Homo sapiens: one gene and its partners. The protein of the gene in region 4 purifies or fractionates together with the protein of the main gene of each other region. This does not show direct contact. Each region holds a gene or a part of one and is shown on either strand. Other genes may lie near its edges.

Region 1 (7,446 bases), on a different chromosome or scaffold from region 4:
AAATGAGGGAATTTGGGGGGTGGTGGGGAGGGCCACCTGGTAAGATATCAGCAGAATAATCCTACAAAAGGAAGGTTATTTGATTACACCCACCCTCAGGCATTGAAAAGGGGTCGGAAGTGAATGGAGTAAACACCTGACAGCAGCGAGCTGGGATTGAGAACAAAAGAGCACACACAGGACAATAGAAAAATCTGAAAAACAAGTGGTTCTCCTCTTCTGGACTTTGAGGTTATAAGGAGGCTGACTAAAAACTTGGGTTTACATTAATGTCTTCAGTAAGTCTTATATTCTATTTTCTTAGCTTATCTTTAATTTGAAAAAGAATAATGACACAAACGCTTTTTCCTGATTAGCTTTTAAAGGAAGACAATCAAGATCTAACCGGTCTGTAGTTTTGCCACTTAACTGGTTCATCACCCAATCAGTTTCCATCCCCTGCCCCCATTTGTATAAAAATTACTGCGTGTCTGCGAAAGGGCAGATTACTGGCTCATGCCTGTAATCCCAGCACTTTGGGAGGCTGAGGTGGGCGGATTGCTTGAGCTCACGGGTTCGAGACCAATCTGGGCAACATGGTGAGACCCTGTGTCTACTAAAAATACAAAAAATACAAAAAAATAGCCAGGCATGCCAGTGGTCCCAGCTGCTCGGGAGGCTGAGGTGGGAGGATTGTTTGAGCCCAGTGAGCTGAGATTGTGCCACTGCACTCCAAATGCCTGAACTATGGCACAGTTTAGTATATGTTGTATTAATAGTTTAGTATATGTTGTATTATTAGTATGTATCAGTATATAGGATATCTATACTATCTATAATATATAGTATATGTAATAGTGTATGTTGTATTAATAAATGAAGAACTCCAGCCCTTTAGAAAGTGTAGAACCACTTGAGAAAGATCTTACTTTTGTACGGCACTTTACAAAGAGCTGTTTATATATTGTATCCATTTAGATTATTTCTTAACTCCCAGTGCAGCTAAAAAATTATCTTCCCCATTCTGTTTTCCTACACAATTAAATAATTTTAGTTCCGTAAATTGTTCTTTTTACAACGCTTTCTTGCATTTTCTCTCTTTCCTGTGCTTTATCCAATTTTGTCTTTGGTTCATCATGCCCCTCAGGCATGGAGTTTGAAAACTAGGTAGATAGGATGTCTAAACCAAAAAAGTATACCATAGTATTGGTCTTACTCCCATACAGAGAAGCCATTCAAACTGTGGGAATGAATTTGAGTTATTAGAGAAATGATAATAGTAGTTTAAGTATGTTCATTCAGGTTTACACATATCTGTTGTTAAATTTAGGATGGCCCGTACTTTGGAACCACTAGCAAAGAAGATCTTTAAAGGAGTTTTGGTAGCCGAACTTGTAGGCGTTTTTGGAGCATATTTTTTGTTTAGCAAGATGCACACAAGCCAAGGTAATCATAATTCAGAAGTTAATGCTTTCTAAAGGGGTATAGTTTTGCTAATCCATTTTATGTGTTAAATGGCAATGGCATGTTTGGAGAAATTGGTTCTTCAGATTCAAGATATTAGACATTTTTAGGGGCAGAACAGGAATCAAAGTATTCATTATTGTGGACTAGATCACTCTCACTTCTCCCTTAAAAATGTTGTTTGTGGGCTAAGGAAAAAATTTCATACCTCCATGGATTTTACTATTGTGGAGGATATAGCAAGTGTCCTTGGTCTGGCTTAGTTTGGGAGCACAGATGGAGGAAACTTAGCCTGCCCATTATACTTCATTGTTTGGTAGACTAAGAAAGTAACTGGTATTGCTGTTTTCTGAGTAACCAGTTTTCTCAGGCTATAGTATTCTTCCTGGGCATCAACAGTGGGCACTAAGACTTTCACATGCTATGGCCGAAAGTGCTTTAACATTTTTCTTGGGGAAATTTTATATTAGAGCTCTCAACTTTTTAAATTAGGAAGTGATTTTTCCCTAAAACAGGGAATAGACCTGGCATGATAGCCATCTTTGAAACTTGCCACAGTCTTCCTCAGCATACTTGGTTGGAACGCTGTACCAAGATGCTACTGGATACTCAAAAAATCCCTTTTCTTTTAAACTCTAAGGAAGGGTATTAAAAAAACATCCCAACAGTATTTAAAAACAAATTAAAGCTTGGGATCAGTTTTAAAAAGTGTCATGGCTGGGTGTGATGGCTTGCACTTGTAATTCCAGCACTTCGGGAGGCCAAGGTGGAAGGACTGCTTGAGCTCAGTCTGGGCTAAACATAACAAGACACTGTATCTTAAGAAAAAAAAAAAAAGTGCTGGGCATGATGGTGTGCTCCTGTAGTCCCAGCTACTCGGGAGGTTGAGGTAGGAGGCTCCCCTGAGCCCCATCCCAGCTACTTGACCTTGGCTGACGTAGGAGGCTCGCTTGAGCCCAGCCCAGGGGGGTCTAGGCAGTGGTGGATTGTGACTGTGCCACTGTACTGCAGCCTGGGCAACAGGGAGAGAGATCCTGACTCAAAAAAACAAAAGGAGATCGTTCCTGGATTACCAGAAAGACCTTCAAACAAATTTCTAATCTATATGGTTCCCATCATATGGACCCTAAAGCTAGCATTAAATTGTGGCTGTGTTAATATAATGAATTTCTGTTCATATCTAATTTCAAGACATCCTTTTTTCCATCAGATTTCAGGCAAACAATGAGCAAGAAATATCCCTTCATCTTGGAAGGTATGTTTTTCCTTAAGTAAAAATAAGTATAAAACAACTTCTTCAGGTAACCTATAAATTATGTAGTAATTTCTTTACAAGGAATTTCTAACAATACTATTCACATGTATTTTAGTTCTTCTGAGACTAAATTCTCATCTATTCTAGTGAGAGGAGAATTAGGTAATGGGCTGGATTCTGAATTCTTCTAGTGGTTAAGAATGTAAACTCTGGAATCATTCATATATGAGGTGATAGAATCAAACCACAGTTTAAACCTTTGGTTTTAAAAGATCAGTTTCATCTCAGGTTTGCTAACTTCTTGGAGCTGTCTCTTTCTCTGTCAAGTAGATAAAGACTGAACAAGATGACATCATGTAGTTAGACGAAATAGTGCTCATTACAATGATCAGAGATGCCAGGACTTATATGTGAAGTCTGTAATCCTACTGTCCTCTTTTTCATTTTGTTATGTAGCAATATGGAAAAAAGAAGTTGTTTTTTTCAATACATTTAATTTTAACAATGCTTCCACATGACTTTATAAATGAGAGCTATTTTTATTTATAGTTTATTACAAATCCACTGAGAAGTCTGGAATGTATGGAATCAGAGAGCTAGATCAAAAAACATGGTTGAACAGCAAAAATTAGATGTAAGTAGAATTTTAATCTATAATTTACATTAATAACTCATTTCCTTTGTTTTTTAGTTTTTTGAGTGGTTTTAATCCTCTTCTTTTTAAAATGTTTCTTTTTCTTGATGATACTTTTTGCATCTCTGTTGTGTAGCCAGTCATCACGTTCAGCCTCCCATCTAAGCTGTTTGAGACCTTTGAGAGAAGAAGAAAAGATGAGTGTACTACCACACTGTAGACTCTTGGTGGTCCCACAGAACATGCTGCTGAGTCACAGGAACTTCTAGCCTGCCTTGGCCTGTGGTTTCCCACCCACTATACAAACCCACTGCTTGTTTGTTGCTTTTCTTCTCATATTTATTGTCAAAGATAAATGTTTCAAAAAGAAATGACTAAGGAAGGAAAAGAAACAAATGCTCTAAAGATTTTCTCTCCCCAAGCACTTTTACTGGTGAAATAAAAACCAGTAACAATCAATATGTAAAAACGGCCCACTTCCCTAAAAAAAAGTAATTTTTGTAGTCTGCAAGGTTTTTTTTTTTTTTGCTTTAGTCTAAATACTTGTTAATCTTACATGTTCTCCTGAGAGAAGAAAAAGCCATTCCTTTCAGGTTGTAAAGTACCATGAAAAGGTCTTTCAAAAATATTCCTATCAGCCAGGCATGGTGGCTCACACCAGTAATCTCAGCACTTTGGGAGGCCGAGGCAGGCGGGTCACTTGAGGTCAGGAGTTCGAGACCAGCCTGGCCAACATGGTGAAACCCTGTTTCTACTAAAAATACAAAAATTAGCTGGGCGTGGTGGTGCATGCCTGTAATCCCAGCTACTTGGGAGGCTAAGGTAGGAGAATTACTTGAACATGGGAGATGGAGGTTGCAGTGAGCCAAGATCATGCCACTGCATTCCAACCTGGGCAAGGGAGTGAGACGCTGTCTCAAAAAAAAAAAAAAAAAAAAAAAAAAAAAAAAAAAAAAAAAAAAAAAAGAATAAATAAAATAACGAAAATTTCCTATCTTCTGAAGTTCCAAGCCAAAGCTATTTTTAAAACATCAATAAAAAAATTTAAGTTACTTACTTGCATTATCTTTGTTAGCCATGGCATTCATGCCAATGTTATCAAACTTGGATCCCATATTTTCATCCAATAGATGGCCAAACTTTTAAACAAAAACGATAAATTTATTAGAAAACTAAAAATAATGTAGAATAGCTAGCTTGTTAAAACAGTACATTAGCCTTACCTCTTCAGCAGATACAAATAGGCTGGAATCATTTAAGTTTCTTTTCTTTTTTCTTGGCCCTAAAAAAAATTGTAAGTCTACATTATTCAATTATAAATCTAATGATTTTAGAAAAATGCAATGCAACATGATTTTATTTTAAAAATTATACTTGGGTAAAAACAATTGCAATAATCTTCTGGCACCATTGGGTAGCTGGCATTTAAATATAATTTAAGAGTTAGTATATAATATTTTCAAAAAGCTAACAACATCCTAATAGAACTGTTCAGATGACAAGAGTGTCTTCTTGCTTTTCAGATTTGGCCACTGATCGAAGTTTTACCCATAAGGGAAATAACATAGTATCAAGCAATAGTAAAATTATCAGTTTGACATGGATGGGTTTTGAAATACTTAAGACACAACATAAAATTTAGTTCAGGGGTCTTTAGATTGTAAAGAAATTGACTGAAAGTATGTTTATTATGCTATAAATGAAGTTGTTTATAACAGCGAAAAAGGTTCTCCTTTAAAAAAAAAACTTATCTGTAGTACTGAATATATAAACTTTTCCTGAAACAATTATTCAAACTCTGCATCTTTGATATCAATGTCTCTAGCAGTAGTAGAGCCATATTTTAAAAAGAGCTTTACTAAATACAGATCATAACATTCAGCTGTTTTAAGTGTATTAACGCATTTTGGTAAATTTACAGACTTGTTCAACCACAACCACAGTCTGATTTTAGAACATTTCCATCAACTTCAAAGATCCCTGGTGCCATTTGTAGTCCTCCAACCCATCTCCGATCTATCTTGTTTCTATGACTTGCCTTTTCTGGCTATTTCATATAAATGGGATCATATGACATGTGGTTTCCTATATCTGACTTTTTTCATTTAGCATAACGTTTTTGAGGCTCATCCATGTTGTAGTACTCCATGCCATGTTGTGGGCTACATAATATTCCATTGTATGGATATACCACATTTTGCTTATCAGTTAATGGACATTTAGGTTTTGTCTACTTTTTGGCATTAATAGTGCTGCTGTGAACAATCATGTACAAGTCTTTGTATCAGAGCCACTTTTGATAAAATAGTTTCTAAAACATTTCATCTTGATTTTTATTAAGGTGATATGTATGTTACTTAACAGCTGTATAATACACATTTGCATGCATTAGGAAGTTTTTTTTGGGTTTTATTCATCCTGTAGTGATGTATCTGTGACCTCAACGAGTAGGCACTTCTGTACTGTACTGGTTTCTTAAAGTTTCTTTTATCCCGCCCCCACCCCCAACCTCAGCCTCAAGTATGTAACACCATGCCTGGCTAATTTTTGATTTTTTTTTTTTTTTTTTTGAGACAGAGTCTCGCTTTGTCGCCAGGCTGGAGTACAGGGGCGTGATCTCGGCTCACTGCAACCTCTGCCTTCTGGGTTCAAGCGATTCTCCTGCCTCAGCCTCCCAAGTAGCTGGGCCTACAAGTGCATGCCACCACGCCAAGCTAATTTTTGTATTTTTAGTAGAGATGGGGTTTCATCATGTTGGCCAGGATGGTCTTGATCTCTTGACCTTGTGATCTACCTGCCTTGGCCTCCCAAAGTGCTGGGATTACAGGCGTGAGCCACTGCGCCCAGCCATTTTTGATTTTTTGTAGAGATGGGGTCTCATTGTGTTGCCCAGGCTGATTAAAGTTTCTATAAGGTATGTTTATTCTTAAGGATATCTACTCTAACACCTGTAAATGTAGGGTGATCAATTAGTAAATTAATAAATCTGAATCAATTAATAAATCTGTTTAAAATTCCTTGCCTCTTTTTGTTTCAGTCAATTCTGTTGGGTATTCTTTAATCTGCATCCAAAACTATTATCAATTGAGATCTGAAATCCTTTCAGGCTAATGTCTTCTGAAACAGTACTTTACTATTTGAAACAAGCTCAGAGCATCTTTTTTAACATTAAAAAATTTTTTTCTTCTCCTCAAATTCCTTTTACCAGCATCTTTTAATAAAAGGCTCAGTAGAACTTGAAGTAAAGCAACACTTTTCTGTGGGATGCTTTTGAGAAAAACTGCCTATATCTCATCTTATGCTAATACTAAAACATGATCTTAGATACTCAAGGGAAGACAAAATCTGGAAGATAACGTGTTATAATTTAAATATGTATCAGTTAAATCATAGTTATTACAGGACTAAGAAATTGACAGCAGTATTTGAAAGAGCTGATAAAATTTTGTAGGCGTGAGGCTCTGAAAGACTACTACCAATATGTAAATGAAACTTTTTGTCAGGCCTCTGAGCCCAAGCTAAGCCATCATATCCCCTGTGACCTGCACGCACACATCCAGATGGTCGGTTCCTGCCTTAACTGATGACATTCCACCACAAAAGAAGTGAAAATGGCCTGTTCCTGCCTTAACTGATGACATTATCTTGTGAAATTCCTTCTCCTGGCTCATCCTGGCTCAAAAGCTCCCCTACTGAGCACCTTGTGACCCCCACTCCTGCCAGGCAGAGAACAACCCCCTTTGACTGCAATTTTCCTTTTTTCTACCCAAATCCTATAAAATGGCCCCACCCCTATCTCCCTTCACTGACTCTCTTTTCGGACTCAGCCCGCCTGCACCCAGGTGAAATAAGCAGCCTTGTTGCTCATGCAAAGCCTGTTTGGTGGTCTCTTCATACAGACGCGCATGAAACTTTTTAAAACATTATTATTATTTAACTTTGCAGATCTATTTTTAGTCATCAGTATTTAGCAGTAAGCAGAAGCCAGAGAGGCACTGGAGGCAAAGTATGTACAGTGCTTTCTACATTTTTATCAAAAATCTTAAGACTGTCACCTGATACAGCACTTTTTTCTTTTATTAGCACCTTGTGTTACACTGTGAAGCAGAATCTT
Region 2 (7,703 bases), on a different chromosome or scaffold from region 4:
TGTAAGACAGAGTTTTATTTCCCTTTCGTGTATGGAGAATCAAGGCTCCAAGCATTGCATGAACTAGGTAAGGCTCAAGATACCTTGGCTATATGGTGCTGAAACAGAGAAGTCCCATCTTCTCAGTGATGGCTTTTAGTAGCCTGGTGACAGACAAGGGAATGAACATTCATTTAGCCTCTTCTGTTGGCCAGGCAACCTGATTGGCATTTCATGTACTCGTCTTCATTCGGTCTTCAAAACAGCTCTGAAGGAGCTAAGAGAAGAAACTCAGAGAAGTTAAAAGAAGTGGCTAGCTCAAGGTTTAGATGTCGGCTTAGGAGGCAGCAGTCTAGGTTCAACCCCACCTCTGCAACCTGCAACTGCGTAACTTTTGGTGTGCTACTACACTTCCCTAAGCCATATCTTCATGTCTGAAAATGAGATGACAGTAGGTACTTTGTAAGTATCGACAGTTAGTATTCTGAGTTGGAGTTGTCCAGCCCTCAAAGAATCCTGACAGATGGGCTACATTCTCAGAACTAGAAGGAACCTCAAAAGATTTCCTAGGCCGCTGGTTTCCAAACTCTTTTCTTGGAGAACTAGGGATTTTGTAGAGGTCCTCGGTGGATGAAGGGACACTGAGCATGTGGAGCTCCTTCAGCCAGGGCAGCGGGTTCAAATGTGAGTTACATGCCAGTTGCATGCATCTGGTTCTTTTAGTTATTGGGAGATGAGGTATGATTTCATTTGACAAAAATGGTCCCACTGCTCTTCTTAAAAAAAAAAAAATTGTTAAGGCTAGAACCCATAGCTTCTGGTTCCCAGTCTGGAATTTTTACTATGTTGTACTTGCTAAAACAGGGAACTGAATGAAATATGATATATTCTAAAAAGGTTATCATCTGTGAAGATTAACATTTAAAACATTGTTTTTGTATCTTCCAGTGAATCAAAAATTTGTTTACTGTAAACCCCATTCCTGCCCCAGAATCCTAGGAACAGAAATTTTACTGTCAGAGAAAACACCGCTCTCATCACCTCAGAACAGCACTGTCCAATAGAACTTTCTGCAATGCTGGACATGTTCTCTGTCTGCACTGTTGAGTATGGTAGCTAGTGTAACAAGGAAATGATTTTAAAATTTTACCTCATTTTAATTAAATGTAAATAGCCACATGTTGCTAGTGGCTACCATTTTGGACAGTGTCGCCTTGAGTACAGAGCAGGGGTCAGGTGGCAGTCTCTGGCCCTTTGGCATCAGAATCATCCAGAGAACTTGTCAAAAGTACAGATTCTGGGCCTAATGCCCAGTGACTGGTTCAGCAGGCCTAGGAGGAATGCATTTAAAGAACTTATCTGGTTATTCTAATCTGTGGTCAGATTGGAAACTGCTGCATTGGAGAGCTTTTCCTCGGAGTGGAAGAATAGAGCCAGAATCAGGCATTTAGCCCGGCCCTGATTTTCTAGGGAGACTAGAGGAACCTTCTGGGGAATGGCAGATCCTTGGAGAATCTGTTGAAAGCTATGGACCAAGTCTTCCCTGGAAAAATGCAAATTACATTTTTCTCCCTGAATCCATCCTTGAACCTAGATTAAGAACTCCTCATACAGCTATGCCCAGAGGTTGATCTGGTACTGTCCAGATCATTCCTATCCCCCAGGCTTCTCCAGGAGGTCACTGAGGCATCACAGAAGAAAGAACCAACAGTGTCTGTGCATCAGGCCTCAAAGAATATGGAGTGAATTCTGCTCCTTTCCTTTCCTCTTCTGATTTCTTGGGCTTATGGGTGAGCCATGTGGGTTTGGCTGTTGCCACTGCTCGTGTCCTCAACTCTTATGCAGAGAGTAGAGGGCCCAATGCCTTTGGGGCGTGAATAAGCTGAGGAGAGTGTCTAGGCTGAGGAATGAATCAGGAGTTTGACTTGCCTTCAAAGGCAGAGACATAACTGGCTCCCACTTCGTCCTCCCCACACGCTGCAGGAGGGAGAAGGGGCAAAGTGTTAGGGCCATGAGCTGGGGTGACAGCCAGAGACCAAAGTCCAGGGCTGGGAAGGCCCCCTGGCCAGTAGTCCTGGACTTAGTACAGAACCATGATTTTTGTAGACCAGAGTCCAGATAGAATTAGGAAAGGAGGGAGGGAGCAAGTGCATCCGTATGTGTGTGTGTCTGTGTGTGCATGTGTGTGTGTGCATGTGTGTCTGTGTGGGAGGTGGTGTTTGGGGAGAGCCACTGTCAGGCCAAAGTGTCCCAAGAATAGCCTCTTGAACTTGGAGGCTGTCGGTGAGGGTCTGAGTCATGGTGATGTGGCACAGAAAAGCCAGCCACAGGAGGAGCTTTACAGCTCCCAGGCCGTGATTTGTGCCCCTGAGAGGTGAGGGTCAGCCTGTTTTCCCCATGTCCTTCACAAGTTCAGCTGCCATCTGCTGGGTCAGCTTCTCAACAGCCTCCTTGTTACTGTCTGCCTGCCAGGCTGTTGGATGAGTCATCGGGGAACTGCAAAGGAGTCTCTGAGCGTGGCTGCCTCAGCCTCAGCTTCCACTTCTCTGGGAAGAGGGGAGCCTGGTGTGCTCACAGAGGGGCGCTGGACAGCTGCCTACCTAACACCAATATGAAAGGACAACTCTGGGACTCGGGATGCCCTGCACCCCCTCTGGAGGAGTTCTAGCTCAGGATGACCTATCCAGAAGCCTCCGTTGGGCCATGCCAGGCGGAGACAGGCTATCAGAGCCCCCACACAGCCAGATCTCTAATAGCCACGTGCCCCTCAGAGCAGCAACTGCACCACCTGGCCTCATTTTTCTCATTCATCAGGCAGGACTCTCTCTTCCTCCTCAGCATTCGGGATCATCCTGTCTCCAAAGGTTATGGAAAAGCAATCTTTGTCCTTTGAGTCCCTCGTTCAGCCAGCGTCAGTTGCGTGGTCTGTGGCCCCTGTGCTATACACTGGGGAGGCACTGTGTGCAGGGCCCCACCTCTTCCCTCAGGAGCCTGTTGACCAGGGAGGACCTTAGTGTGCCCTCCTGCATTTGCCTGTAACCCAGGAGCTTGGGGAGTGGGCATCATAGCCTAAAGAACCTAGGGTCTGGATCCTGGCCATGTCCTGTCACACGTGGGTTGGGTGACCTTGGGCAAGTCTCCACTGAATTAGGCCTCAGCTTCTTCAAATAGAAATGAGGAGGTCACGCTCACATCGAGCTCCCTGTGAGCATTCCCTACTGCTGTTAGGTTTGGAGACTTTTTGGTCTGTTCTTAAGATCTCATTTCCCCTGGTAAAGAGGCTGAGAACAGTGGGATCGGCTCTGGGCTTAGGTCAGTTTCTTTTTTGGAGGTAGAGTGGGGTGGGGAGGTGTGAGGTGGGATGAAAGTACAGTTACAAGAAGCATAGCCAGCCTTGAAGGGCTTTTGCCTAATTGGATGTCAGAACACCCCTTAGACTTTTTTTTTCTTTTAGAGACAGGGTCTTATTCTGTCACTCAGGCTGGAGAATGCAATGGTGCAATCTCAGCTCACTGCAGCCTCAACCTCCTGGGCTCAAGCATTCCTCCCACCGCAGCCTCTAGAGTAGCTGGGACTACAGGCCAGCTACCCCAGCTAATTTTTTGTATTTTTTTGTAGAGACAGGGTTCCACCATGTTGCCCAGGCTGATCTTGAACTCCTGGGCTCAAGTAATCCTTCTGCCTCAGCCTCCCAAAGTGGTGGGATTACAGGCATGGGCCACCATGTCCGGCCCCCTCAGACTTCTTAAGATCCTCAGGTAACAGTGAGGCCACCCATTCAGCCTCCTCAGCATCTGGCGTTTGGTACCAAATCCAGGCATCCTTGCAGGAAGCTGGAGCTGCTCCAAGTTCAGAGCTAGGAGACCCTTAAAGACAGAGATGCAAGGAACTAATCAATAGTGAACAACAAACCCCACCACACCCGCCAGCCAAGCTGGCAGAGCCTTTCATAGCCATCGAGGTGGGAAGACCAGTGAGGCAGATTCAGAAGGAGGAATGCTTCAACCTAGTACCTCAGCTTCCCACCATCTCATTCAGTCCTCAGGCCTCACAGGGCAAAAGGCCAGAGGCCTTAGAGTTCAGCTTCAGATGGTGTACCTGTCTGCCCCAGAAGCAGAGAAGTGATCCAGGGTTCACAGAGTTATAGCAAGGAAGATGATTTCTGCTGGTAGCAGCTTTAAGACAAACCTACCATCAGAGAGCAGTTATTAAAAATCTGTCTGCATTTGGGACCTTCTCAGGCTGTTTCTAAAGCAAGTCATGCCTGAGAGGGGCCCTGCCCTTTAAAAACTCCCAGCCTTTAAAAAGGTTTCCAAATGGTAACAGTCTCAAATCAGTGCTCTTCTCTTTTTTGCCAATTCCAGTCTGCAGGCTGTTTGCACAGATTGTTGGCAACTCTGGGTTGCTCTTCTTTGCAGCTTCCTAGGGCTGGGCAAGACAGAACCCAGAGAGACGTGAATTCTTATGCTTTATTCTTTATTTCTAGAGGTATAGGTTCGTGTTAGGGCCTTGAATATAAATTCTACTCCTGATGTTGCCTGAATGAAAAATGATACCTAGAAGTTTTCAGCCAATGAGTTTGGACATTAGAGGAGGAAGCATGTTAGTTCCTTCTGGAGAGCCACAAACAGACGCATTGGGCAAGGAACCACGTGCTGAGCACCATTTGCATGCTGAGTTTTAGACTTTGTAGGACACACACACACACACACACACACAGATATCTACCTCCTACTAGGGAACAGAATAGAACCTTGCTTCTCTCCACTTGGAGAAAAGTCGCTGTGGATGGTGTGTGCCAACAGGTCCTCTCCAAAGGCTTATGTGGGGTCAGTGAGGCCATGGTTTTGGAGTCTGGGATTCACCACCCTGTCCTGGGGAAACAAAGTTTGCCATAAAACAACAGAAAAAGATCGAGCCATCATAAAGGCAAGAAAGAGCCAACCCAGACATTTGTGCCACAGCTCTCCTAGAGGGAGTGGGCTGGCATCCTTGCTGGACACAGTGAAGGAGGCTGTTTATGTTGTGGTACTGGGAGGACCGGGGGACTGTGCCGTGTGGAACGTGTAGCTGTTGAGAGGTGGACTCTGTTACCATTGAGGATGTTTGGAGGATGAGTATGTGTGGCAGAGGCACACATAAACAGGCAGAGACCCTTTGCCCCTGCCTTTCTCCCCCAACCCAAGGCTGACCTGTGTTCTCCCAGGTCTGGGATTCTAAGTGACCTGCTCTGTGTTTGGTCTCTCTCAGGATGAGCACAAGCCTGGGAGATGGCAGTGATGGAAATGGCCTGCCCAGGTGCCCCTGGCTCAGCAGTGGGGCAGCAGAAGGAACTCCCCAAAGCCAAGGAGAAGACGCCGCCACTGGGGAAGAAACAGAGCTCCGTCTACAAGCTTGAGGCCGTGGAGAAGAGCCCTGTGTTCTGCGGAAAGTGGGAGATCCTGAATGACGTGATTACCAAGGGCACAGCCAAGGAAGGCTCCGAGGCAGGGCCAGCTGCCATCTCTATCATCGCCCAGGCTGAGTGTAGGGGCCTAGGGTTGTTGTGGGCACGGGGCAGGTGGGTGGGCCTGCAGGTGGGTAGCTGGGCCCAGGGGTTCCCTATGGAGGAGAGAGGTCTGTGTCACTGCTAGATAAGATTCTCATGAGACACAACCAGAGGTCTGTGCCGAGAATCATGGAAAGTGGGGTTGTAAAAGTGCACAGATGGTGGATGTGGCAAGGGGAGACTGTGCCCATCGTGACTGGAGCAGGGGAAGAGAGGTAACAGACGAGCACTCGGGACTCTGCAGAATCATCAAGCAGGCCATCAACCTTCTGCTGTGACCTTGAGCAGCCCCAGTGTCTGGAGAGGCTCCAGACAGGAAAGGCCAGGTCTCCTGGAAAGCCCCACTGGGGCCTGTAGGGCCTTCACCATCTTCCACCTAGAGGTGGCCCCACCCCCAGGAATGAGCACCGTGCTCTTGAGCCTGCTGGGCCAGTCCTGGGGCGGCAGGCTGCTGCAGGGTGAGACCTAGTCTGGTCCTTTCTTCTTCTACTCATGATACCTTATGATGACTAGTAATGGTGGCTTCCCTTGGAGACAGAAACTCCCACGAGGCCTGGGTAGGGCCGGGAGTCCTCTCTCTCCAACGCCTTCCCTCAACCCGGGAGGCTTCTTGGGGTGGAACCTGGAGAGCTGGACAGCCATGCTGTCATTTCTCCACACGCATACATCCTGCCCTCGTCTCCCACTTCCTCCTGGTTGGTTTTTGAGGAGAGATGAGAGAATAAAAACTAAAATACAGAGAGTGACATAATAATTGTTTTAAAAAAATACACATATATCCACACTTATATGTACACACATATATAAATACCTAATAGCTGTTTTTCCTATGAGCCAGGCACTGTGTTGAGCATTTTCTGTAGATCATCTCACTTCAGCTTCATAGGAAGTGAGGCGGGCGCCCTGTGATCCCCATAATATAGGCTTGGCTATTTCAGAGCAGGTGGCTGAGGCCGTGGTCTGCTCTTGACCAGTAAGCTGAGAAGCTGGGGAGAGACAGTGCGGGAAGGAGGCATTGGTGGGGAGGTGACTGCCAGACAGGGGTTGTCTGGAAAGGAGGGGAAGGAGAGGCGCCAGAGGGGATCTCTGTAAAATGTCTCTCCCCTAAGTGCTAAATTCCTATTTTTTCTCCTCTCTGCTAATCCAACTCCTTTTGCTTTAGGTGAGAATAGCCAAGAGTTCAGCCCCACCTTTTCAGAACGCATTTTCATCGCTGGGTCCAAACAGTACAGGTAAGCAGGGGAGACAAGCCTGAGTGGGAAGGTGGGGACTGGACCCAGCGCCCTCGTCCCCAGCACTTGCCTGGGCCGCTCCTGCTGACCCCGGGCTCCCTCCCTCAGCACCTGTGGTTCAGCTCCTGGAACTCACCCAGGCTTTCCTGGCTGAGCCGCTCTCTCAGCCAAATAAGCTTTTCAAAGGCTTTTCACAGCTTGTGGCTGACTGCCTCTGGGCCACATCAACTTGACATTTTATTTTTATTCTCCTCAGAGTCCTTAATGCACCCCCTCGTTTCCCATCAACAGGGAGGGTGCTGGGAACAGAAGCTGCTTCCCACTCTTGCGTGACCGTGAGCGCAGGCCGGGTTGGTGGGGGGGGCCTTCCACTGTCCTCTATGGGAGAAACCTGCTGGTGCCTTTTCTCCTGGGAGATGCACCGAGTAGGGATGCGGGCGGTAGAAAAGGAGGGGACAGATAGACTTGGTGGCCCGGTAGAAAGGAAGCCAGGGTGGGGCTGAGTCTGTTCCCAGGCTCTGCATTCCCCCACAGATGATTTTTTGAAACAAGAGTTCAAGTGCTGGGCACAATGGCTCTCACCTATAATCCCAGCACTTTCTGAGGCCGAGGCAGGTGGATCACGAGGTCAGGAGATCGAGACCATCCTGGCCAACATGGTGAAACCCCGTCTCTGCTAAAAATACAAAAATTCCCTGGGCATGGTAGCGCATGCCTGTAACCTCAGCTACTCAGGAGGCTGAGGCAGGAGAATCGCTTGAATCCAGGAGTCGAAGGTTGCAGTGAGCCGAGATTGTGCCACTGCACTCCAGCCTGGTGACAGAGTAAGATTCTGTCTCAAAAAAAAAAAAAAAAACAAGAGTTCAAGCTAGAAACAGCTCCTTCCCCTATCACCAGGCAGGTTTTGTATCATTGGAGTTTGGAACCTGCTAGTGATAAGATTG
Region 3 (7,703 bases), on a different chromosome or scaffold from region 4:
ATTTTTAAAAAATCAAATCTTCTGTTACTTTGTATTCAGAAGAAAACTATGCAAAGATTAACATAAAATTAAAAGTATGGAAATCCAGATTTTAGTAAAACCTATTAAAATTAATCAGAGTTTGCTCAACTGGCTAGATCCAGGATACATAGTCTCTGCATTAAAAATCAGCCACAAAGGAACAAAGAGAACAAAATTACTTTTTAATCCTTCTTGGTAAATGATACAGACACTCTTGTTGAACAAATAAGTGGATGTGCTGGAATTAATTGGTCCCACTCTTTGGTTCATTCTTGAGAGGTGATATTGTAGAGTTCTGAATGGCTGAAGAGGCTGTTTTTACCAACATCCCTGGGCAAGTTCCTCAACTGCATGTGTTCTCAAAGAAGCTAACATCTTTGTAACCTCTTTTTACAATTTTTAAATTTATTTTTGAGACAAGGTCTCACTCCCACACAGGCTGGAGTGCAGAGGTGCTATCATAGCTCACTGCAGCCTCAAACTCTTAGGCTCGAGCATTCCTCCTACCTCAGCCTCCTGAGTAGCTGGGACTACAGGTGCATCACCACACCTGGCCTTTTTTTTTTTTTTTTTTTCCAGACAGGATCTTGCCATGTTCCCCAGGCTGATCTCTAACTCCTGGCCTCAGATGATCCTCCCAGAGTTCTGGGATTACAGGCGTGAGCCACTGTGCCCAGCGTCATGTACCTTTTCACTGGTGTACTGGATATATGGAACGTGGACCCTCCAGGCATTAATCTTCTTTCTGACAATCACAGACCCAGTGAGGAGCAGAGCCAGGATTTAAACTACATCTAATAATTGTGTCTAGTGGGTCAGCTCCCACATGTGCAGCCTCTCTCCCTGCCTTCCTCTTCCTGTCTTGCAAGCACAGGTGGGGATACACAGTATTTAAAGGTAAATGCTGGCATACTTGTAGACCTTTTTAACCAGAGTTGGCCACCACACTCTCCTGCCTTTCTTAACCTTGGTACTCTCCCTTCAAGAGATGGAGTTTAACCCCCTTCCCACTGAATCCGGCTGGCCTTAGTGACTGGCTTGTAAAGGATAGACTGTCCTGGGGTGACACCATGTGACCTAGGCTGGGTCAGAAAAAGCCATGCTGTTTCTGCCTAATACTGTTGGAACCCTGGCTCTTTGGATGAGAGAACCTAACACAACTGAACTCAGCCTTAGAGCCACCTCAAGCCCAGGTGCCAGCCATGAGATGAGCCATTCCATACCTTGGAATGGACCCACTGGCCTTGTACTTTGTAGTTCCAATCAGCTCTCCCATACCCTAGTATGTTCTCCCCCTTTCCTATTCCTGGGTCCCTTATTTTCCCAGACCCAGCTCAAACCATCATCTCAGTTCCTGAAGCCATCACTAAAACTTTGGACTCACCCCTCAGTCTAGGATTTGGAATCTGGGAATTTTTAGTTTACCAGGTTCTAATCTCAAGGGTCCCATTCTTTGGTTCATTCTTGAGAGGTGATATTGTAGAGTTCTGAACAGCTGAGGAGGCTGTTTTTACCAACTAACGTCCCTGGGCAAGTTCTTCAACTGTGTATGTTCTCAAAGAAGCTAACATGTGCCATATTAAAGTGCTGAAATGACTAGAAGCAACATAGCAACCACAAGCCCTGTGCCCAATGTGTGAATGGCAATAGGGCTGCTGGTGTACCACCATCATTCTCCAGGCACATGGGCTCAAGGTATCTACTCTGGTCCTGTCTCCAAGGGTTTTTCACTTCTGCAGAGAAAGGAGGTACTCTCATCCTAGATGGCACGACTGCACCTCACCCTTGTTGGCAAGACCCAAGGGTTCTAAAGAGGCTATGCAGAGTAGCACTCAACCAGTGTCTTGAACCTAAGTATTTTTGATCCAGAGTTTTATGTTAAATGTTACATGGAACTCAAGAGCAAAGGTGGAGCCTAGAACAAGGAATGGAGCGGGTCATATACTGTGGGCTATGTGACCTGGAGAAAGAATGTGAACTGTGGGCAAGTACATGCTCTAGTATTGCCAGTGTCTTTTTGCTTAACTTAGTGATGGGCTCCTGGCCAGAGCAGTTGCCTTCCTTGTGATAGTCTCTCAGGAAAAATGGAAACACAAACCAAATGAAGCTAGGCATGGTGGTGCATGCCTATAGTCCCAGCTACTTGAAAGACTGAGCCAGGAGGATCTTTGAGCCCAGGTGATCCTTTGAGCCCAGGTGTTCGAGGCTACAGTAAGCTATGATTCTACCTCTGCACTCAAACCTGGGTGACAGGATGAGATTCTGTGCGAAAAATAACAAAAGAAACATGAATATTCCCAGGAAGCCCCACACTTGCCTGGGGTTTCCAGCCCTTTGGGTTTAAATTTTCCTTACCTCCACCTAACCATATCATGACAACCCCCTAAGGAGCAGAAAGATTCAGTCATCCCAACTCACATAGTATCTTGTGCCCAAGGTGCTGCAGCCTTGCACAGAATCTTCTAGAACTATCTGATGATCTCCTTCCTTGTGTTTTAATGTTGCTTAAATATTAATCATTACTATAGAGATATTTAAGCAGGCAGGAAATACACAGGTTCTACACAGACATAGATCAATAGTTTATTTATCCACATTATCTTTTAATCCTTAATTCATACACATAAATACTGTGGTACTGTGGATGTAATATCAGTGCAGATTATTAATTACCTGGCTTTTTAAAGTTATTATATAACATTTTCAGATTTTATTAATCTCACTTTTAATGACTAAATGAGTGAACAAACAATATCAAGTGAATGGGAAATCTTTTTTCCAAATGATGTTAATAACTCCTCACTCATTTTCTTATTTATTCATTATGTGCTGGGCAGTCTCCTCAGTTGTCCTTTGGTTTTGGGAATGTCCTCACTCAATACTTCCCTTTCACATTCAGTCCTGATTCACAAGCAGGCCTGTGCATGTTATATTGCAGGGTCAAGCTGAAAAGGCAAGGTTTCTTCAACTGGCTTGAGAGCTATGAGGTAGGCTGTTTCTTCTTTCGCTTTGTCCTATTGTGGGTTCTCTGGTGCCCAATAAGGTGTGAGCTCTGGGTGAAGGCCTTTCCACATTTGTTGCATGCATATGGGCGCTCCCCGGTGTGAGTCCTCTGATGTCTGATGAGGTGGGAGCTCTGGCGGAAGGCTTTTCCACAGTCCTGACACTTGTAGGGCTTAGCGCCAGTGTGAGTCCTCAGGTGCTGGGAGATGGCTGAGCGATCATTGAAGGTCCTCCCACACTCCTGACATTCAAATGGTCTCTCTCCAGAATGAACTCTCTGATGCTGTGTGAGGGAAGAGCTCTGAACAAATCCTTTCCCACAGTCTTGACACACATAGGGCCTCTCTCCGGTATGGATTTTCTTATGCACAGAAAAGTATCTTGGGTTCCGGAATATTTTACCACATTCACTGCATCGGCAAACTTGGCTCCCCTTGTGAATTCTTATAAACGTAATCTGTTTAGTACTCCGACTGAAGGTTTTCCTACAACCATTGCCTTCCTTGGCCTTTTGCCTTTCACAGCTCTTCTGATGAATTTTTACACGTGAATTATGTTTCATACTTTTAACTTGTGAGTCACGTTTGCGCAATCGTTTTCTAGGAGGAATTTTGTGGAGCAAAACTTGGTTTGTGTCAAGAGCGCCACTGTTTGCCTGGGACTCAGGGTTGTCAATTTTCTGGAGCGAAACTTGGTTTGTGTCAAGAGCACCACTGTTTGCCTGGGACTCACGGTTGTCAAAGTGCTTCTTCTGAGGAAGGTCTTTTTCCTGAGCAGACTCCATCTGCTTCAACACTGTGTCTTGGACTTCCTGGACCCCACCCTGCAAGGTATCTTCTAATGTAGAGGACAAGGCACAATCCCTTGAGGATTCTTGTACTTTCAGGCTGGGGGCTGGTTCTTCCTCAGGAATGTCAGAATTTGGAGCTAACTCTTTATTTTCCAGTGTAGTCTCCCACCCTGAAAAAAATAAACAAAAGATGTGGATCCCATAGAGAGATGTGCTGGGATGGGTCTGAGAGCATGAAATGCATAATTAAGTTCAAAAGTCAGGATTTTTTTTTTCTCCCAAATAGAGTCATGCAACCTGGAGAGAGACTGAAAAGCAATGAAGCGGCAGGGAGGGGAGCACTGACCTTGGTGAACAAGGGACAGGAAGGGCAGGGAGTGTCCTCCGAGCTCTTCGAGTTCCTGTTCTCTCATACTCCCTCAGGAGATAGATAGCAAATCACTCCTTCACCGGACCTAAGGCTGCTTCTGGCCACCCAGTGACCTCACCCCTCTAGGTCTACAGTTCCACTTACAGGCCCTGGATGCAGCAAGGGCCCCTTGAGGGAATGCCCAGTGTGGAGTCTAGAGAAGGTGAACACCCCTGACTTGGGGCTCCTGTGGCCTACCAGCCCTGAGGTGGGTGAAGAGGGGGCACAGCCTTACCCACAGAGACCAGGTGCCCAAAGGTCTCCAGCATCACATCGCGGTACTCGGTCCTCTGTGTCGGGCCCAGCAGCCCCCACTCCTCCCGGCTGAAGTCCACAGCCACATCCTGGAAGGTCACTGGCTCCTGTAACATCACATATGTGTCTATGCTCAGCAAGAGGGTCAGAGGGTTGTCAATGAGGGCAGAAGAAAGGCCAGCTGGGAGGTTCTGACAGAGCTCACGGTGCTAGGGACTCTCCTGCTTTGGGGATTTGCTCAGAGACACCAACCCAGGGCCCACAAGAGTTCTACTGGGTCCAAACCAGGGTCTGGGTCTCAGGCTGGGAGGCAGAGCCCTTGCTTCATAAAGAGCTCCAAGTGCAACAAGCAAACAACTCCATCCTAACCACGGCTCTATCCAGCTTGCCCATTGCTGAAATCTTCCCACTGCAGAGGGTTCTCCATCTATTAATACTGTCTTCCCACTTGGTGGAAATGACAACCAAGCCCCTGCCTTTGTCGACAGGGCTGACCTGGGGGAGGGCAGTCACCCTGGCACAGCCATGACTGGTCCTTTCTGGGGAACTGACCAGGACTTTGGGAAGAAGAGGTACCCCCAACGCTGCTTTGCCAGGATCTGAGGCATTTTGCTTACATGGGGCAGAATCTGCCTAAGAAGAAAGGGGAGTGGCCACGCGCAGTGGCTCACACCTATAATCCCAGCACATTGGGAGGCCAAGGCGGGTGGATCACCTGAGGTCAGGAGTTCGAGACCAGCCTGGCCAACATGGTGAAACCCCGTCTCTATTAAAAATACCAAAAATTAGCCGGGTGTAGTGGCAGCTGTCTGTAATCCCAGCTACTCAGGAGGCTGAGACAGGAGAATCACTTGAACCTGGGAGGCAGAGGTTGCAGTGAGCTGAGATCGCGCCATTGCACTCCAGCCTGGGCAACAAGAGTGAAACTCCATCTCAAAAAAAAAGAAGAAGAAAGGGGAGAAAGCAGAGCCATGAAACAGGTTGGCCAGAGATTCTTCCCATCACCTGGGAGCACCTGGATGCAGCCTTGCCTGAAGCCTACCAGAGAATACATGAGAGCCAATAAATTGACTTCTACGCTTGAGCCAGTATAAGCCATTTGCAGTGCAAACAGGTCTGACCAATGACACATACATACCACTACCCCAGTGGTCAGCGCATCAGGACCAATCTTTTTCACCCACACCCCAGCTCTGGGTTATTCTGAAGCAAATCCCAGATACCAAAGATAAATACCTAAGTATGCATTTCTGAAGGTTGAGGGCTCTCTTGTTCTGACCTGGATACAGATGTGCCTGCCTGTGGTAGTTCCACCTCTCAAGTCTCTGTAAACACTTAGTCCCTTCCCTCTTGCCTCCTGCTTTCTCAGCTCCCGGGTCACCATGCGTTGTCTCCAGTGATGCCACAGTGGCTGGAGGGCAGGGCTGCTCTTCATACTCAGATTGCTTCAGCACAGACCTAAGAGCTCAGAATCTCAGAATGTCCCAGCCTGTGGGAGGTCTTAGGAAAGCCCAGGGCAGAGTGGATGCCTCAGGGGTGGGCCTGCCTCACAGGAGATGCTGTGACCAAAACAGGGTGATACTCCCCGCTTACCTCAGGGAGCACTGTCACTGGGCAGATGGCTGCATCCTCCTGCTTCTCCTCCTGCTGGGCAGTGACCTCGAGGCAGCAGGTGGTGCCCTCGGCAGGTTGTCCTGCAGGAAGTACTGGGAGGAGACACCAGCCAGAGGAGGTCAGCAGGTGTGGGGACCCTTAGGCAGGGCAAGGGTGGCCTCTCTGCAACCCATGGGGCCACCGCACCCCTGCATCGTACTGTGGCTCCATGACAGCCTCTGCTCCTGTCCTCCCTTCCCACCAGCTCTGCTCCCCTCACAGCACGTGCCCGAGTGCCCACACCTGGATGGGCCCGGGATGGCTCACCCTCCAAGGGTCACAGGGCACCAGTGTCCTCACTGCTGAGACTCTGGTCCCACTCCTTCCCTTTCCGGGGGCTGCTGAGGGCCCCAGCCCCTCCTGTGAGGCAGCTGACTGACGCCCCCTCCTTAGAGTCAAAGCCCCTGTTTCCGGCCTCCAAGCCCTGCACCCTGCCTATTTGGGCACCTCTTCCTTCTTCCCTCTCTCCTCCCACCTCATGGAAGGTGAGACTTTCCCTGGACCCATGAAATGCAGCCATCTTGAGGTGAACGTCACCAAGTCTCCTCCACCTAAGAAAACAACAGCTCCACCTGGCCCAAGGGCCCCTGTAACCACGGCTCCTTCATTCTAACCTTCCTCACATGACCCCAAATGGTCCACAGGCTTCCACAATGCTAATCTACCCCCACCATCAAGGTGGGCCACAAGATGACTTAGGCTGGCACACTGGACCATCCCTTTCTCTTGGCCACAGTGATTAGATCTGGGATGAACACAGCCTATAGCCAGATGATTGGAGCCAACAAGGCCTTAGTTGGAACATTTGGGAAAGAGAAATCCCATGCAGGGAGACAGCCTGCCCATGATGAAGCCAGTGGAGGGCAGAAGAGGTAAGAATGAGGGACAGGACAAGTCTGGAGGACACTATTGGAGCTCCTGGGTCCAGCCCTGCCTGATGCTCGAGCACCCTGGAACTTTTCCAATAAATTCTCCTTCTCCCTTGAGCCATTCTGTGCAAGGCTTTGCAGCAGTCACACTCAAGCGTCCCAACTAACACACTGATCACATAATGTGAGATTCTCAGGGTTCTCTGGAAAGCCTCTTCCCATTGTCTTCTGTGGCACTAATTTATTTTATTCACCCCTGAGGTTAAACACAGGGTGAATTCACTGACTTTCACCTCATTAACCCCACAACTGTCTCCTTGGCACCTAACTAACTAGTTTCCTATTGCTGTTATAGTGAATTGCCACAATGCCAGCGGCTCAGATTAATGCAAATGTATTACCTTATGGTTCTGGAGATGAGAAGTCTGGTTTGTGCCTCACTGGGCTAAAATGAAGGTGTCAGCATGGCTATGTTCCTTTTGGAGGCTCCAAGGGAGAATCCATTCCTTGCCTTTTCCAGCTTCTAGAGGCTGCCCCAAACATTTGGCTTATGGCTTCTTCCTCTATCAGCTGCTCCTATCATTACATCTCCTCTGACCCTCCAGCCTCCCTCTCCTAAGGGCCCCTGTGGTTATGTTAGATCCACTCAAATAATCCAGTGCATCTCTCCCTCTCAAGATCCTTAATTGTTTCTGCAAAGTCC
Region 4 (7,703 bases):
CTCTAAAGATGGCCACTGGCAGGAATGAACTGCCAGGACAGTCCCCACCAAGCCTTCTGCCACAATCACGAGAAGGGAAATAGTGAAGGGGCAAGGTCAGTTTAACCTGACTCACCCATGGCCAGAAGTGTCACAATGTGGACATGACTAGACCGCCTTTGCAAATCCCCAAAGCTTGACCACTCCCTTGGCCAACTGCAGGGTTGCGGTTTTCGTAGTCAAGCAGGGTAGGACCTGTTTTCCATTTCTGAGAATGAGTGGAGGATGGACCCCAGAAAAGCAAGCCTCAGATTGACATTCCCAAAAGCACAAATTGAAAATCTGGAGAGTGAGAGCTCTCAACTTTCCTATTCACCCTAAAATTGGATGAATCTTTTGTTGATGAACACTCCTAAGACTCTCTTTCGCCACACTGTTGAAACAACACTGACTTTGTTTTTTTTTTTTTGAGACAGAGTTTCGCTCTTGTCACCCAGGCTGGAGTGCAAAGGCGCGCTCTCAGCTCACTGCAACCTCCGCCTCCCGGGTTCAAGCAATTCTCCTGCCTCAGCCTCCCGAGTAGCTGGGACTAGTGTGTGCCTCCACACCCAGCTAATTTTGTATTTTTAGTAGAGACAGGGTTTCACCATGTTGGCCAGGCTGGTCTTGAACTCCTGACCTCAGGTGAGCCACCTGCCTTGGCCTCCCAAAGTGCTAGATTACAGGTGTGAGTGATTGCGCCCGGCCTCAAGAACACTGACTTTCAAAATACACCTGAAGTTTCAGGGTGAAGATTAATTCTTGCCTCTGCATCAAGATCACTTGCATTTGAAGTCTACTTCCAAAAGAATATGGCATTCAGCACATCACTAACACCAACCTTTCTAGGTCACCTGCCTTTCCCATCTTTAAAAGAAAACAAAGTTCCTTGGAAAATGTGCTATATATAACAAGGAGGTTGGCTTCACGCTTTCTTTTTTTTTTTTTTTTGAGATGGCGTTTCACTCTTGTTGCCCAGGCTGGAGTGCAATGATGCGATCTCAGCTCACCCCAACCCCTGCCTCCCGGGTTCAAGTGATTCTCCTGCCTCAGCCTCCCGAGTAGCTGGGATTACAGGCATGCACCACCATGCCTGGCTAATTTTGTATTTTTAGTAGAGATGGGGTTTCTCCATGTTGGTCAGGTGATCCACCCGCCTCGGCCTCCCAAAGTGCTGGGATTGCAGGTATGAGCCGTGCCTGGCCTTTTTTTAAAAAACAAACAAACAACACCAATAAGCTGGGCGCAGTGGCTCACGCCTGTAATCCCAGAACTTTGGGAGGCCAAGGTGGGCGGATCACAAGGTCAGGAGTTCGAGACCAGCCTGGCCAACATGGTGAAACCCTGTCTCTACTAAAAATACAAAAATTAGCTGGGCGTGGTGGCGGGTGCCTGTAATCACAGCTACTCAGGCGGCTGAGGCAGGTGAATTGTGTGAACCTGGGAGGCAGAGGTTGCAGTAAGCTGAGATCACGCCATTGCATTCCAGCCTGGGTGACAGGGCAAGACTCTGTGAAAACAAACAAACAAACAAAAAACAAAACACCAATGCTGGGCAATTGGCTCATACCCCTATCTACTTTACACAAAGCTTCCCAGTGCACGTGGTCACATTTCCTGAGAAAGGAAACAGGAAGGACTGGGCTTGGCTTACTTCGGCCCAACTTGTGTCCAGAAGTGTAACAACGGGGAGTATGGTTAGATCCCCTCTGCAAATCTCTCCTAGCCACTCCTGACCACCTTTCTTGCTTGCTCTCCAATTCTAGATTTCTGTGAACAAGGCATGTAAACAGTGCCACCTCTGGGCCGAGTGTGGTTCCTTTCAGCTTTTCCTAGCCCCAAATCATTGGGAGGAAATGCCCTAATTTGGGGAGCGCCAGATCCAATTAAGACTTGGGTCCCCTTAGATAATGAGTGGAAGAGTGTGGTGGGACAGGCTGCCAGGAGGTGCACAGGGCCTCCTGGGACCATTATCAGAGCCAAGTGCCTTAAACTAGAATGGAAACGAGGAATGTGTGCATGTGCTCGCCTCACGTTGGGAGGATCTGAGATGGGAAGAATGTATCAGTCAGGTGCTAGGGCACAAAGCACACTCATACTGGGGTGTGGGAACAGTGCTGGGGTTCTTTGCTTCTGGCTGCCTGTGGGATTGTATCCACATGAGGGGACCTGGGCTGACAGGACAGTGACCTCAGGACTTCTGTGCCATGCCCTTCTCTGCTCCAGACCAACAAAGCTGGCCCAGTGAATCACATTACACAAACAGATCCCCTTGTCTGGGAAAAAAAGAATGTGGGAAGACACGGAGGTGAATGAACAAGGCTATGCTGGGCACTTAGAGGGGCTCAGCAAATACTTTGTTGAATCAATGAACAAAGATGCTGGAGAGACTTGTGCCCAGGACAGCTGGGGCAGTCCCTGGTGCTGAACTGCAGCTCCCGACACCAGCCCTGGGGCATTCGCTGCCCCTCCTGACACAGGTGGGTGCTCCCGGGCAAGTTCCAAAGCCTGTCCTATGGGCAAAGCCTTATGATATGCCCTGGACTGGATGTAAGGAGTTAGACAGGAAGAGGTCAGGCCACTGCTGCCAACAACTGCACACTGTTCTTACCCCTGGAGGGGGCAGACTATGAAACAGTTTCTAGAAAAAAAATGCAGGATGAGACACATTTATTCTACATCTGGTCACAGTAAATCTCACCCAGACCACAGGCAGGATGCCACGTGGCTACAGGCAGCTGGCGGAAATGGAGATCATCTGTTCTGGTGCTCATGGCCACTCTGGGCAGAAAGCAAAGGTGCCTCATGGCACCTACTCAGAGGCACTGAGGCCACATTCCCATCTCCAGGCACCAGGGATGTCTCTGAAGGGTGATTCCATTTGGAGTTTCCAAAATCCAGGACTTCTGAGAGCCAAGCCCTAGTTCCAAGTCATCCTGAGTCCAGGCTCTGCCAGAATCTTGAGCACCTGGAGCTGGTGGCAAGGCAGCCTGGGGGCTGAAAGGGCCTCAGACTGGACCACAGGGCAGCCCAGGGGCCCTGGGCCTCAGGGTCGACGATCCTTTCTGCGGTTTTTGTGTCCCACCTGGGAACCTCGCCGGGCAGCCTTCACCAGGCCTTTGAACTGTCCCTGCAGCTTCATCTTCTTCCTGCAGGGCCAAGGAACGGAAGGGTCACATCTGGCTGAGAATAGGAGGCCCCCTCCTGTTGCCAAATGATGGCTCACCCCCAGCGCCAGCAGGGATGAGAAGGGGGCCTCCAGGTGGTGGCCAGCACATGAACTAGGCAGACCTCACGTGGTTCCAGCTTCCACACGGCTCATGTCCTGACCTGGACATTCCACTTTGGCACAATTATCCCCCTGGAAACAGGCCTCCCTTCCATTTTTCCTCTAATGTATGTCCAGAGAAGGTCAAAGCTCCCTCTGCCCACCCATCCCTCCATTGAAAGGTAACTTACAACCCGCAGAAGCTAGAACTTTACAACACCATTTCCCTAGTAACATTAGTTTCCAAAGCAGTCCTACACATAACCCAATTTAAGGGCCAAAGTCGGAAACAACTCTAATTTCCTACCAATAAAGGGATTAGAAAAGCAAATTATACAAAGCTATTAAAAATGATGACTATGGCTGGGCGTGGTGGCTCATGCCTGTAATCCCAGCACTTTGGGAGGCCGAGGTGGGCAGATCACAAGGTCAGGGGATCAAGACCATCCTGGGTAACACAGTGAAACCCCGTCTCTACTAAAAATACAAAAAAATTAGCCGGGTGTGGTGGCGGGTGCCTGTAGTCCCAGCTACTCCGGAGGCTGAGGCAGGAGTATGGCGTGAACCCGGGAGGCAGAGCTTGCAGTAAGCCGAGATCGTGCCACTGCACTCACTCCAGCATGGGTGACACAGCGAGACTCCGTCTCAAAAAAAAAAAAAAAAGATGACTATGTAGAGTATGTAAATACCAGAAAACATCTGTATGACATAATATCATGTTTAAAGAAGCAGTTCAGGGCGGGGCACGGTGGCTCGTGCTTGTGATCCCAGCACTTTGGGAGGCTGAGGCATGCAGATCATGAGGTCAAGAGATCGAGACCATCCCAGCCAACGCGGTGAAACCCCATCTCTACTAAAAATACAAAAATTAGCTGGGCATGGTGGCACGCGCCTGTAGTCCTAGCTACTCGGGAGGCTGAGGCAGAAGACTAGCTTGAACCTGGGAGGCAGAGATTGCAGTGAGCCAAGATCGCACCACTGCACTCCAGCCTGGCGACAGAGCAAGACTCTGTCTCAAAAAAATAAAAAAATAAAGAAGCAGTTCAAGTCAGTAATACAGGTAGGTACCAGCTACATGATATAGGTGCATGTTAAAAAAAAAAGCTGGAAGAGACTCAAATTGAGCTGAGAGTTTAATAAGGCCTTCCCTTCTTTAGAGCACTCTGCTCCCTCATCCCCACCCATCCTCCAGCCCCCAGCCTGCCTGGCACAGCGTCATACCTGCGGTTGAGCTTGCTTCTGTTGAGGGGGATGTAGGCATAGGGATCCGGCCGGCCTTTCTTCTTCACATCACCTTTTGCTTTCTGCTTGCCCAGAGAAACAGAGTCAGCTAGGAGGGTGGGGTTCCCCTTCTGTCCCTGCCCTAGACTTGACAGGCCCCATAACCTCCCTTCATCCTCTGCCTTAGGTGGTGCCAAAGAGCTCCTGTATCCTTGGAAGGCCATTCAATAAGGTCCCCCATTTCAGATGCCACAAGGTCTTAGCATCTGAACCCCTTCTTCTTTCCTGGCCTCAGTTGAGTTCCAGGAAGGTGCCTCTCAGGACAGTGATGGGCACAGCTCCTCCTTGCCCCTCCCTGGCACCTGTCCAGTGCCAGGAGACCCCATGCCCTACATGCAGCACTTACCTTGGCCTTGTATTCAGCCCCAGGCATAGCCTTCTTGGCCACAGGGCGATGAATGCCAGAGCCTCCAGCTACGGGGAGAACACAGGACCATGAGTCAGGCAAAGCCAGGGCAGCCCCCTCCAGAAAGGCAATGGGCACCCTCTCTGAGAGAGCTGCAAGGGAGCAGATGAGTGAAGGCCAGGAACTTGGCTCTGTCCCCTATCAAACCAGGACAAAGACCTTCCTCGAGGAGGGACTGTCTGGTGATTTGACAGTTAGATCACTGGGCTCCTCAGACTGACCCAGAAGCCTTACAGCTTACCAGAGACCTCTGGGAACACATATATTCTCCGCTAACACACTAACAAAAAATAACCCATATTCTCCAAAGTCAGACAGAATTCAGCCAGCCAGCCAGCCAGGTTCAACTCCCAGCTCTGCCACTTACAGCTCCAACCTCAGGCAAGCCTCTTAACCTCATCTGTAAGAGAAGCCATTTTAGGCTTTCCCTTCTTATCTCATTTGGGTTTCACACAAACACTGAGATAGCAGGTAGCTATTTAACCCATTGTAACAGATGTGAACACTGTGGCTTAGAGAGATCAAGATCCTTGCCCAAGGTCAGCTGTCTTCTCCAGCCTGGACTTCAACATTCAACGACAAGTTGTGGATGGAATCCTACCATGCCAGCTCAGGAGGACTCTCTGAGACGACCAACACGAACCACCCCCATTCCTCATGTTTTTGCAGATGAGAAACTAGAAGCTCAGAGACAGACAGTGTAACCAGGCCAAGGTCAAACAGCTAAGCAGAGGTTGGGCAAGCAGCCCTGACCCCAGGTCTCTGCCTCATCAATTGGCAGGTACTCCTGCCTCAGCATCACTCCATCCCAGGGCACAGTAGGTGAGCTGGCCCTGGCTCATGGGTGCCACAGGCGGAAGAGCCATGAGGTTGTGCAGCTGCGTTATGATGCTCTAGGGCTGAGGACACACCAGCTACTGGAATCAGAGGCTTCCCACAGGAGCCCCTGGACCTCCAGATGCAAAGCAAGGGCTCTGCTGCAAGGGCTTGGGGGCAGGGGTCCTGCAAGGCTACCCTGGGAGGAAGGAAGCAGAGGTGAAGCCACCTTGGCACTTCTAGCAGCTGCTCTAGGAGGGCAACAGCTGGTGGGCCCAGAGATAGAAATAGAGGGGAACCCTCTGGCCAGACCCAATACCAACCTTCCCAGTTCCCAGCCCTGGCACCGGCCAAGTGGCTTCTCTAAACCCAGCCTGACTCGGTTGGTGCTCTTAGGGTGACCAAGAGAGGCAAGCAGCTCGCAGAAGGGACAGACTCAAGCCTCTTGGGAGGCCTGGGCGGGTGGGAAGGAGCTGTGGCTCAGGGCTCCTCAGAAGGCTGGTGGTTCCATGCACAGATCTCCTAACCCATAGGCTCTCTCACACCCCCAGGGCCCCTTAGACTCCAGGCCCATCTTGAGTGTCATATCAGCCAACCTCTGTTGGTGCCAAGTGAGTGCAACCAGGCTGTGCACCCTCATGGCCCTGCCACCCCTTCCTGTGACTCCCCTCCCTAATGCAGGTGACAGGGATCCATGTGTCCCAGGAGAGAGGAGTGGAAGCCTCACCTTGGTACTGAGGGGGTATCTCCAGCTCCTCCTCCTCAGCCTCTTTCTGGTGCTTGAGCTTCTGGTGCTTTTTCTATAGAGAGAGAATAGGTGGGTAGTGAGTGAACCAGGGGATGTGCCCACCCTCGGGAATGCCAACAGTAACAGCAGAGTACCCTGCATCAAGCAGGAGAGGCCCTCTGCTAAGCACCCCACCTCTCACTTACAGATGGGGAAACTAAGGCCCAGAGAGGGCAAGGAACTGTCCAAGATCACAAAGCCAGGCAGTGCAGAAGAGAAGCTCTGGCCATGTCCTGACTGCCGGGCTGGTGGCGGCCGTTCCTGCTCTTCCTTTCCACTCTGGGCCCCACCCAGGCCTGCAATTGCCCAGAGGGCTTCTGACATCAGCTTACCCAGCCTTCCTAATGGGGAAAATGAGGTCCCTGGCCTCTTCAGAGAGAATAGCTTTACCAGTTCTTTGCTTCACACAAACCCCACCCCACTCTCCCTATTAATCACTCACTTACTGATCCCCTACTAAGTGCCAGGCCCTGGGGACACAGGGCACAAGATCTAGTTCCTGTGCTCCACGGGCTCTCAGGCGGGTGGGAGACCCCTGCTCAAGCCAGTCATCACTGATCCTCAACAATGCTACCATCCCAGCAGGTATGATCATGGACAGTAAGACACGTCAGCTCGTCAATTATATTCAACAGGAAGTGACAGAGCACCTACTGTGCGCCTGGCACTGTGTTAGGCAGTCCAAGGGAAGGAGGGAGAGCCCGACAGCGGCCCCAGCCCATCAGATGTGAGCCTAGAACCAACAACCAGGCCAGGCAGAGGCGTGCTGTGCAGGGAGGGCAGGCAAACAGAGGTGGCCCCAGCTGGCAAGGCTGGTCCCTGCACTGTGGTCTGTGCCACTGTGCCCCAGAAACCTCTAGAAACTGCAGATTCCCAGGGCTCCAGCTACCCAGGGGATCCAGAGGCCAACCAGGGGAAAGGTATGCCAGGTAAAGGGATCGGCCTGGGCAGAGCGAACAGGCTGCAGCACACACAGGGTGTGCCTGGGAGACGGGGGACTCCAGGTCCACTGGCCGAAGCCCAGCTGAGTGGGCTCCTAGTGGAGAAACAGGAACCGGGAGGAAGCTGACTCCGACTGCAATGTAGGGGATGATGGCTGAGCTGGCTCTTGGTTCAGCTGGTGCTTG

The links.
Region 1: the proteins of RRP12 (region 4) and CEBPZ purify together in Homo sapiens (affinity purification with mass spectrometry, with the first as the bait; one large-scale study listed by BioGRID). This does not show direct contact.
Region 2: the proteins of RRP12 (region 4) and MAP3K14 purify together in Homo sapiens (tandem affinity purification; one large-scale study listed by IntAct). This does not show direct contact.
Region 3: the proteins of RRP12 (region 4) and ZNF274 purify together in Homo sapiens (co-immunoprecipitation; one large-scale study listed by IntAct). This does not show direct contact.

What each region holds. Positions count from the first base shown.
Region 1 is NC_000002.12:37,198,395-37,205,840, forward strand, and holds the end of CEBPZ (CCAAT/enhancer-binding protein zeta), read right to left. Parts: intron 6,350-7,446; exon of another isoform or gene 4,615-6,349; coding exon 4,556-4,614; exon of another isoform or gene 4,472-4,555; coding exon 4,390-4,471; exon of another isoform or gene 3,510-4,389; coding exon 3,370-3,509; 3' UTR 3,331-3,369; coding exon of another isoform or gene 3,248-3,330; 3' UTR 3,218-3,247; downstream 1-3,217. Other genes in the region: protein CEBPZOS, read left to right, coding at 1,311-1,425, 2,654-2,698, 3,248-3,330. UniProt on the Homo sapiens protein: Stimulates transcription from the HSP70 promoter.
Region 2 is NC_000017.11:45,288,292-45,295,994, reverse strand, and holds part of MAP3K14 (mitogen-activated protein kinase kinase kinase 14), read left to right. Parts: intron 1-5,229; 5' UTR 5,230-5,249; coding exon 5,250-5,505; intron 5,506-6,689; coding exon 6,690-6,759; intron 6,760-7,703.
Region 3 is NC_000019.10:58,208,442-58,216,144, reverse strand, and holds the end of ZNF274 (neurotrophin receptor-interacting factor homolog), read right to left. Parts: intron 6,185-7,703; coding exon 6,072-6,184; exon of another isoform or gene 5,715-6,071; intron 4,586-5,714; coding exon 4,459-4,585; intron 3,985-4,458; coding exon 3,002-3,984; 3' UTR 2,583-3,001; downstream 1-2,582. UniProt on the Homo sapiens protein: Probable transcription repressor. Specifically binds to the 3'-end of zinc-finger coding genes and recruiting chromatin-modifying proteins such as SETDB1 and TRIM28/KAP1, leading to transcription repression.
Region 4 is NC_000010.11:97,354,030-97,361,732, forward strand, and holds the end of RRP12 (RRP12-like protein), read right to left. Parts: intron 6,590-7,703; coding exon 6,517-6,589; intron 4,982-6,516; coding exon 4,914-4,981; intron 4,591-4,913; coding exon 4,508-4,590; intron 3,168-4,507; coding exon 3,065-3,167; 3' UTR 2,672-3,064; downstream 1-2,671.